Regions from separate parts of the Homo sapiens genome. Here all the other regions are linked to region 2. The links come from fine-mapping of genetic effects on gene expression. A gene starts in region 2. Each other region holds a variant in brackets. All regions are shown on one strand. Distances are from middle to middle.

Evidence for each region.
Region 1: its variant is fine-mapped to the expression of SESTD1 in whole blood (TOPMed, PIP above 0.99).
Region 3: its variant is fine-mapped to the expression of SESTD1 in whole blood (INTERVAL, PIP 0.95).

What each region holds. Positions count from the first base shown.
Region 1 is chr2:179,351,909-179,354,676 of GRCh38, reverse strand. No RefSeq gene overlaps it. Among named protein-coding and RNA genes, the nearest start is that of SESTD1, 88 kb to the right of the region's middle. The variant G/T (reference allele first, on the strand shown) is at 1,669.
Region 2 is chr2:179,263,466-179,266,233 of GRCh38, reverse strand. SESTD1 (SEC14 and spectrin domain containing 1) reads left to right here and starts at 1,402. Exons shown (of 18, transcript NM_178123.5): 1 at 1,402-1,735. RefSeq lists silencers at 1,301-1,920, 1,931-2,000, 2,109-2,272 and an enhancer at 2,601-2,670.
Region 3 is chr2:179,121,017-179,123,784 of GRCh38, reverse strand. SESTD1 (SEC14 and spectrin domain containing 1) reads left to right here. Exons shown (of 18, transcript NM_178123.5): 12 at 1-70; 13 at 1,856-2,015. Among named protein-coding and RNA genes, the nearest start is that of CCDC141, 72 kb to the right of the region's middle. The variant C/AC (reference allele first, on the strand shown) is at 1,522.

The DNA.
Region 1 (2,768 bases), 88 kb before region 2:
ATTGTCAGTACTCAGTTATTCACACTCCTGGAGGAAGTATACATAGCACTATGCATCTCCCAAAATATCATTTATATTTGAATTTACAGGACCTTTTCATTCATGTTTAGTCATAGTACATTTCACTTTCTAAGAATTCACAACATTGGAAATAAAACAAAGAGGCCACACATGGAATTTCTGACTCTACAAGAACTAAGAATTTATCCACATGATTCCTCCTCTGGTATTCTGCCATTTTTTCTTCTCTTTCTCTGCCTTCCCTGCTCTCCATTTTCTCCCCACCCCAAGGTGGATCAAGGCGAGTCTTTAAAATGAGAGGAAGCGTGTGCTTTGGAGGAGCTGCTGCCAAGAGTACAGCTATCGCTCTGTGTCCTTTTTTCTCAGGTAGAAATTTAATTAGATATTTTTATTCTAAAGTTCTTGCTTCCAAACTCTAATGAGTTATAGTTCATATGTAGAGGATGAGAATAAATGCAGTTAAGAAACACAAAGGAGATAATCAAGCTGAACAGGTGGTTCTCAACAAAAACTTTAAGATTTGTCTTCTACTGAGAATAATCAAGAGATAACCATAAATTAAAATGACTTTAATAAAGACATAAAATGTCTTGTTCCTGAATAAGAAGACTGCATATTTTCAGTTGTCAATTTTCCTAAATTAATCTGTAAATTCAATGGCATCCTAATGGAATTTTAATAAACTTGAACAAATGTTTCTGAAGTTTATCTGAGAGAATATTCAAGTGAGAATAGCCAAGAACAACAACAATTTTAATAAGAGTTATAGAGAGAAGGATTAGATTTAATATATGTTTAAAGGTGATACCAAGCCACAATAAATAAAATGGCATGTTCTCAGCTCAGTAAAAGAGATGTATTCCAATGGAACAGCAAAAAACAAACAGTAATATATAGTATCTTGTTTCATTTTATTTATTTTTAGAGAAAGGGTCTCACTGTGTTGCCTAGGCTGGAGTACAGTGGTGCTATCATAGCTCACTGTAACCTTGAACTTCTGGGCTTAAGCAGTCCTCCTGCTTCAGCCTCCTGAGTAGCTAGAACTATAGGCACACACCATCATACCTAGCTAACTTTTTATTTTTTGTACAGACCGGGTCTCATTATGTTGACCAGGCTAGTCTTGAACACCTGGCCTCAAACTATCCTTCCCCCTCGACTTCCCAAAGTGCTGGGATTACAAGTGTGAGCCACTGTTCCCAGCCCTATCCTACAGATATCTGTACCTTTATGTAAAGCATTTCTGTAGGATAGGGCCATTTATATATGGCTATTTATATATATATAAGCTATTTATATATATAAAATACAGATATATAAATATATATAATACAGATACATATAAATAAATAAAAAAATATATATGGCTTTTATTTTATTAAAAATGACTCAAATGCTACTATGGGTAACAATGTAGCAGTTCCTTAAAAAATTAAACAGAATCACCATATGATCCAATAATTTCACTTCTGAATATAAACCCCAAAAACTTGAAAGCATGAATTGAAACAGATATTTGTATACCTACATTCATAGCAGCATCATTCACAATAGTCAAAAGCAACCCAAGTTCCATCAACCAATAAATAAACAAAATGTGGTATATACATATAGTGAAATATTATCAGCCTTAAAAAGGAAGGAAAT[G/T]ATGATACATGCTTACAACATCAGTGGACCTTGAAGAAATCATATGCTAAGTGAAATAAGGCAGTCACAAAAGGAAAAACACTGTATTATTCCACTTATATGAGGTACCTAGAGGAGTAGAGTTCTTTGAGACAGAAAATAGAAGAGTGGTTGCAAGGGGCTGCAATGAAGTGGGAATGCAGAGTTAGTCTTTAAGGGTACAAAGTTTCAGCTGGGGAAGATGAAAAAGTCCTGAAGATGAATGGTAGTGATTGTTGCACACAATGTGAATGTACGTAATACCTCAAAACTCTATACTTTAAAATTGTTAAAATCATAAATTTTATGTTATATATATATTTAACCACAACTTAAAAAGTGTTGTATGGTAAATGTTGGGATACTTACTAGATTTACATCATCTATTAAAGTATTTTGAAATAAATACTTGTGGCAGTATTTGTTTAAACAACCAAAATGTTCATCAACAAACTATAGTATAACCATGCAACTATGGAACAGCATGCAGCTATTAAAAAGCATAAAGTTGACATATATGGAATGATATACAAAATGTATTGTCAAGTGAAAGAGGAAATGGAAAATTGTATTCGACCTACTTTACATATTTCTTTTGTAAAAACAATATTACATCAAGTTGCCCAAGGGTAAGGCCGTCTAACCCACATGATAGAAAAAGCATCATCTTTGTTATTTTCTTCTTGGGATCACAGAGCCAGTCTCACTCTTTTATATAGTAGTTGGGTTTCCCTATAACAGATAGAAGTTCTCCACTGTCCATTATACTAGGAAGATATTCATCCTGGGACAAAAAATGAGGACTTAGTGAGTAGGAATTAGTCTGAGGTGAGGAGAAATTTTTTCTTTTTTCTCTGGGTTTGAGACTCGGTGACTGTGAGGAGCCAGGTGTCCTGACCTGGGCCTGACAACACAGAGAAAAGCTGATGACAAGTCAGGAAGGTGGCTAGGCCCATAGGTGACCTACAGCAAAATGGACTTGAACTGCAGAAGCAATGTATCTTCCGTGTTGGACTCTCCTTCCATTAGTCTTTGTTCTTCTGTAAGGGGAAATTATGGTAGAGCCCACATCCATATTTGTG
Region 2 (2,768 bases):
GGAGCAAAAAAAATGAACTAGACAAAATCCCTGTCCTTTTAAGGAACACACAGTCTAGGAAGAAAAGGCCACCAAGCAAAGCAACAGGAAAAAAGCAAGTATTAAAGATTATCATAGGGAATACTGTAGATAGACGATTTTATGAAAGCAGAGAGAAAAAGAGTATTTAATTCATTGTAAATGTGTGGGGTAAGGATACAGATGTGGTGAAAGGAGATGATGTCAGGGAAGATTCCAAGGAGGAAGGGATGCATTATCTTCATTATCTTGAAGGACAATAGGAGTTCAACTGGTTAAATGAGGGATGGATTTCAGGTGGGGGAAAACTACAAGGGCACAAAGACAAAGTCTGTTGAATTTGTGTGATACGTAGATATATTAGGAGTTGAAGCTGGAGCCAAGGAGGTCAATAGATCAGATTTTAAATGGCTTTGTAAACCATGGTAATGAGTTTGAACCTGATTCAACCAGGTGGAGAGACTTTGAATGATTTTAAAGAGGGACGTTTCATGCTTAGCTCTGTCTTTTTGGAGCATTCTCTCTGGCAGTTATATGGAACTGAAGCAGCAGTGAAGTTAAAGGCTTGACCTAGAGTGGCAAAGAGGTGGAAGTCATGGAGACAGACTGATATTCACAGAATTAAGAGGAAGAATTAATCCACGGGATTTTAAGTCAGAAAACTTTAGTGGAGAGAAATTTGGTTGCTTAGTTGTTGGAATAGGAAGATTTTATCAACGGAATTAGGTGATACTGAAGTGAGTGGCTGAGTGAATAATATGGAAGTCTTGAAATTGGGACCACACAGCTGCTCTGATCTGGTGTGAATTTGCTGATGACTCTTTTGAACTGAATTCAGGAAATGACATACAAATGATTTGCGCAATAAAATGAAAACAAGGACTCTTAAGTCAGTATACTTGGAGAAAAATAACTAGGTTGGTAAAAATGGGGAAGTAGCCATTATCAGGGAGCCCCATTGTGGATTAATTTTGGACTGTCCAGTGGAAAGATCCTCAAAGCAAAACAAATGCCCTGAATCCAGCCCTTCCTCACCGCAACCCTTTCCCTTTCATCTGCCTTCATCCTTCAGCCACACCACCGCTTGGCAGTGAGTACTTGGGAGCAGCTCTTGGAGACTTTGTACTCGAACCTTCGAACTCCAGCATGAGGCCAGAGGAAATAAATGACCTGCCAGGGTGTCAAGTAACGGACCCTCTCTTAAGCCCAGACTTCTGACTCCAGATCTAGGTACCCTTCCACTCTCCAAGACTGCCTCCCGCCTGGGGAGCCTGGGCCTCGGCTAGGGGTGGGGACGGCAGGGTCCGTCCGGAGCGCCAGAGTCCCACTCGCGCCCAGCCCTCAGCCCCAGGCCCGGTTGGACGCCCCGCCCCGCCCCGCCTCCTTCCTCCTTCCCGCGCCGGGCGGGTTGCTGTACCGCCGTCACCCGGGCGCGCGCGGGGTCGCGCGGACGCGGCTCGGGCCGCGGGTGCCGAGAGGTCGCCGGGCCACCCGCACCCCCGCTCCCCGCCTGACGCACGGAGGGGCCGGGACGCGATTTGCCGCGAGTGACTGGAGCCGCAGCCGTCGCCGCTGCTGCCGCCGCCGCCCGGGCCCGCTCCGCCCCCAGCCCGCCTTCCTCCCGCCGCGCCCTCCGCCTCCGCCCGCACCTCGCTAGCGTTCCCCTGTCTTCCCCAACGCCCCGGAGCCGCCGGCCGCTAGCGTCAGCGCCAGCCAGGTGAGTGTGGCCGCCGCTCGGCCCGGGCGGGAGAAGCGCGCAGGCCCCGCGGCCGGGTGGCCGGCTTGGGCCGGTGCAGTCGGCGGCGGCGGCGGTAGCGGGCCCGGCTTTCTTCCCCTGCGCGGGCCGCGGGGCGGAGGGGCTACGCAGTGAAGGAGGGGCGCCCCCGCCCCGCCACCGCCTCTGCTCCCAACGCCCCGACCGCCCCCACCGCCTTGCCGCCACAGACAAAGCGCCGGAGGTGGGAGCCCTGCGGGCCGCCTTTGCCTCCGCGCCGTCTGCCGGGTGCGGCCGCGGCCCGCAGAGACCGGGCCGCGCGCTTTTCCGTTCCTGAGCGCCCTTGTTCATTTCTGGGTGAAAGGGACCCGAATTGTGCAACAGGTTTGGGCGTTAGTCCTTATTTTCCAGCGGGTCTCTTTTGCCAGCGTGCAGGAACCAGATGTGGCTCCCTGCTCTCGGGCGAGTCCCGCGTCCAGCGCCCGCGACTGGCTCCTTTGTGTGACCGGTGACCGGCCCTGTCGGGTGGGTGGAGGACACGGGCTCGAGGCCCCAGGGCTGCGCCGAGGCTCCTGGACGCCTCCTCAGGTCGCGGGGCTTGGCTTCCACGGGCCTGCCAGAGGTTAACATCCCTCCAGCGTTTGGGAGAGTCACAAAGGGGAGGAGAGAGAGGGTTGGCCAGGGTCTGTGGTTGTGTTTATTTTTCTATTTTAGGTAGACTCATATTAGAAAAGAGCCGCAGTCTGACCAGCTCTTGAGGGTACGGGTGGGATTTCACCCTGGGATGCACGGTTTGGACTTGGCTGTTGCTCTGACAGCCCCCGTGGTTTTCTTGGTGCTTTGACATCTTTCTCTTACACACAGACATCGCGGGAGAAGTTGGGAGTGCTGCCGAGGGAGTAACTAGATAGCAGCTGTTTGACAGGTCGTCTCTTACTTCACGTTTTGCTTGTGTCAAGCATGCCCACTATGTATCCCAGCATAGCTTGGCAAACCGTCAAATTTAAATTGCCACTCAAAATCCTAATCCTTATAC
Region 3 (2,768 bases), 140 kb after region 2:
GTAGCACCAGCTGATGGAGCATCGATTCAGCAAACTTTAAAACTGCTTGAAGAGAAGCTGAAAAGTGTTGGTAAGCAGATTTTAAAAATGCTGAAACATAAGGTTTTTTTTTTTTTAAATATCATTACCATGGTTAGACAATTAAGTCAACTTACACTGAACTAATTAGTATTATTTTCAGGAAACAGAAAAATAGTATAAAAAGATTTTATTCCCTTGAGGGGTTATAATTTATGCTGAAAATTTTATTTTTCATCGTTAGTTAGTCACTCCTCCCTTCACTGGGCCTTTACCCTTGCCTGTTTACCCAGCTATATCTACAGGTGCTGTGTCTTGCATATACTATGAACAATTATTTGTAGTGCATGCATGAACTGTAATTAGCTGTGAAATGTTCTGTGGTAAATCCTGTATGCCCAAAATTGTGTTTTATGCAATGATTTTTGTTGTTGCTTTATCCTAACCTTGTGAAAAAATAGTTGGTTTGGTTTTTTGGTTCTTGTCTCACCAAACTGGGAATATTGTCAGATTACCCATTCTCCAAGGAGTGGGGTACATTTACATTAAGGGGTCCAGTTACATTAAGCTGATGTAGGCTTGATGTCATTTGACATCAAGGCCTTTAGAATTTTTCTACAGCAGGAAGCACAGTGAACTTTCCTAAAAGGTCAGGATGTGACAATGGGAAGGTGGGGAGTCGTATCAAGGGGGGACAAAAGGGGAAATGGCAATGGAAGAGAGGAAACAGGAACTTAAGGCAGAGAACTAGTAAAAAGTGGTTGCACATGACTAAACCAAATTATTGAAAACTGCCTTAGGGAATTGGTTTGAAAAATCACACTTGTACTGACATTTTACTTGCTTACAGCCTTTGTTATTTTATTTTTTTGAGATGGAGTCTTGCTGTGTTGCCCAGGCTGGAGTGCAGTGGTGCCATCTTGGCTCACTGCAACCTCTGCCTCCCCGATTCAAGTGATTCTCCTGCCTCAGCTTCCTAAGTAGCTGGGATTACAGGCACCTGCCACCACGCCCGGCTAATTTTTGTATTGGTAGTTATAGTAGACATGGGGTTTTGCCATGTTGGCCAGGCTGGTCTCGAGCTCCTGACCTCTGGTGATCTGCCCACCTCAGCCTCCCAAAGTGCTGGGATTACAGGCATGAGCCAGCGCACCTGGCCAGCCTCTGTTATTTTAACAGATGGTATGCATAATACATATTTAGTGTTTAATATGACAAATGAATTTTCTTTTAAAATATTAGTTTTCTTGAGCCACAGTCTTTGTTTAAAAAAAAAAAGTTCCTTTACACATGTAATTTGGAGAATTGTAAATATACCCTAATTGTTGCTTCCTATGGTATAGAAGCTAGACTGTATCTTTAGTCACAATGTTCAACATCCTTTGACATTGATGATACATTGCTGGAGTGTCTTAAAATTTTGCAAGGCTTATGCGCTTTTTTAAACAACATGTTTGCCTTGTTCTCCTATAAGTTGGACAGCATAAAAGCAGGAAGAAAAAA[C/AC]AGAAAATTGTTTTCTATTAGAAATAGGAATTTTCATATTTTTCTTCTGCTTTCATTTTTTAAAAGTAATTATTGTCTATGGAAACCCATGTTTTCAAAATTCCCTTTAGGGAGAATTTGGCATGAGAGAGAGCTCCAATTCGAGTTACATTTAAAGGGTTTTATTGCTTGAAATGTTCATAGGATGGAGTCTTGGGATTCCATCCCAAGGTGGTTTACTGTACAAAGCTCCTATACTTGGGATCCAGGTACAATATCTGATGAGACGATTTGTTTGAGGGAGGGAAAGCGCCTTAGTTGTGTAAGAGATTAAATCTAGTAACTTTTGTTTTAGATGTGGGATTGCAAGGTTTGCGTGAAAAAGGTCAAGGTCTCCTGGATCAGATCTCCAATCAGGCATCCTGGGCCTATGGAAAGGATGTAACCATTGAAAATAAAGAAAATGTGGACCACATACAAGGAGTGATGGAAGATATGCAGCTTAGAAAACAAAGGCAAAGTTTGACCGTTAATTACTTTTTACTAAAATAATAACAATATTAGTTAAAATGAAGTTATATAACATTTTATATACAGACAAAACGTTCTTAACTGTTATATAGAAGACATGTAGTAGGTTTTTGGTGAATGTGATAATTACTGTATATAATTTTACTAACATAGTAATAATTTATTCAATTATTAGGTACCATTTTCCTTTTTATTGGGTTGTAAAAATTTCAATTATACTCAACTATTTCAAATTCCATATCCCCAGTGTAGTCTATGACTCTTCTGCTTTAAAAAAAACTTACTGAAGAATAATTTTGCTTTTTAAATTTCATTTAGTTTAGAGTTGCCATTAAACTTGTCATCTACATTGATCTGTTTCTTCATCTAAACTTACAGAATGTCACACATTCATTGTTCTCATATTTGCTGTAGGAGGATTAAACAGTGGACTAGTGATGTTTAGTTTCATTTTCTATAAAACTAGGAATTCAAAAGATTCTTTGAAAACTCAGTTTGCAATAGCAACTACAAAGTATTGCAAAGTAAAGGATTAAAATTATGCAATATACACAATCTAGCATGGTTATATGAAATTTTGCACACTTAAAAATTTTATGATCATCAACAAAACTTCACAGAAAGCTTCCTTCTGCATCACAGAGAAAACAGTCATGAGGCAGAAATTTCTTCCCTCATATCTGCAAACTTACTTTTATTCTGTCACCACAGAGGATGATAGAGCTCTCCGTTTATAT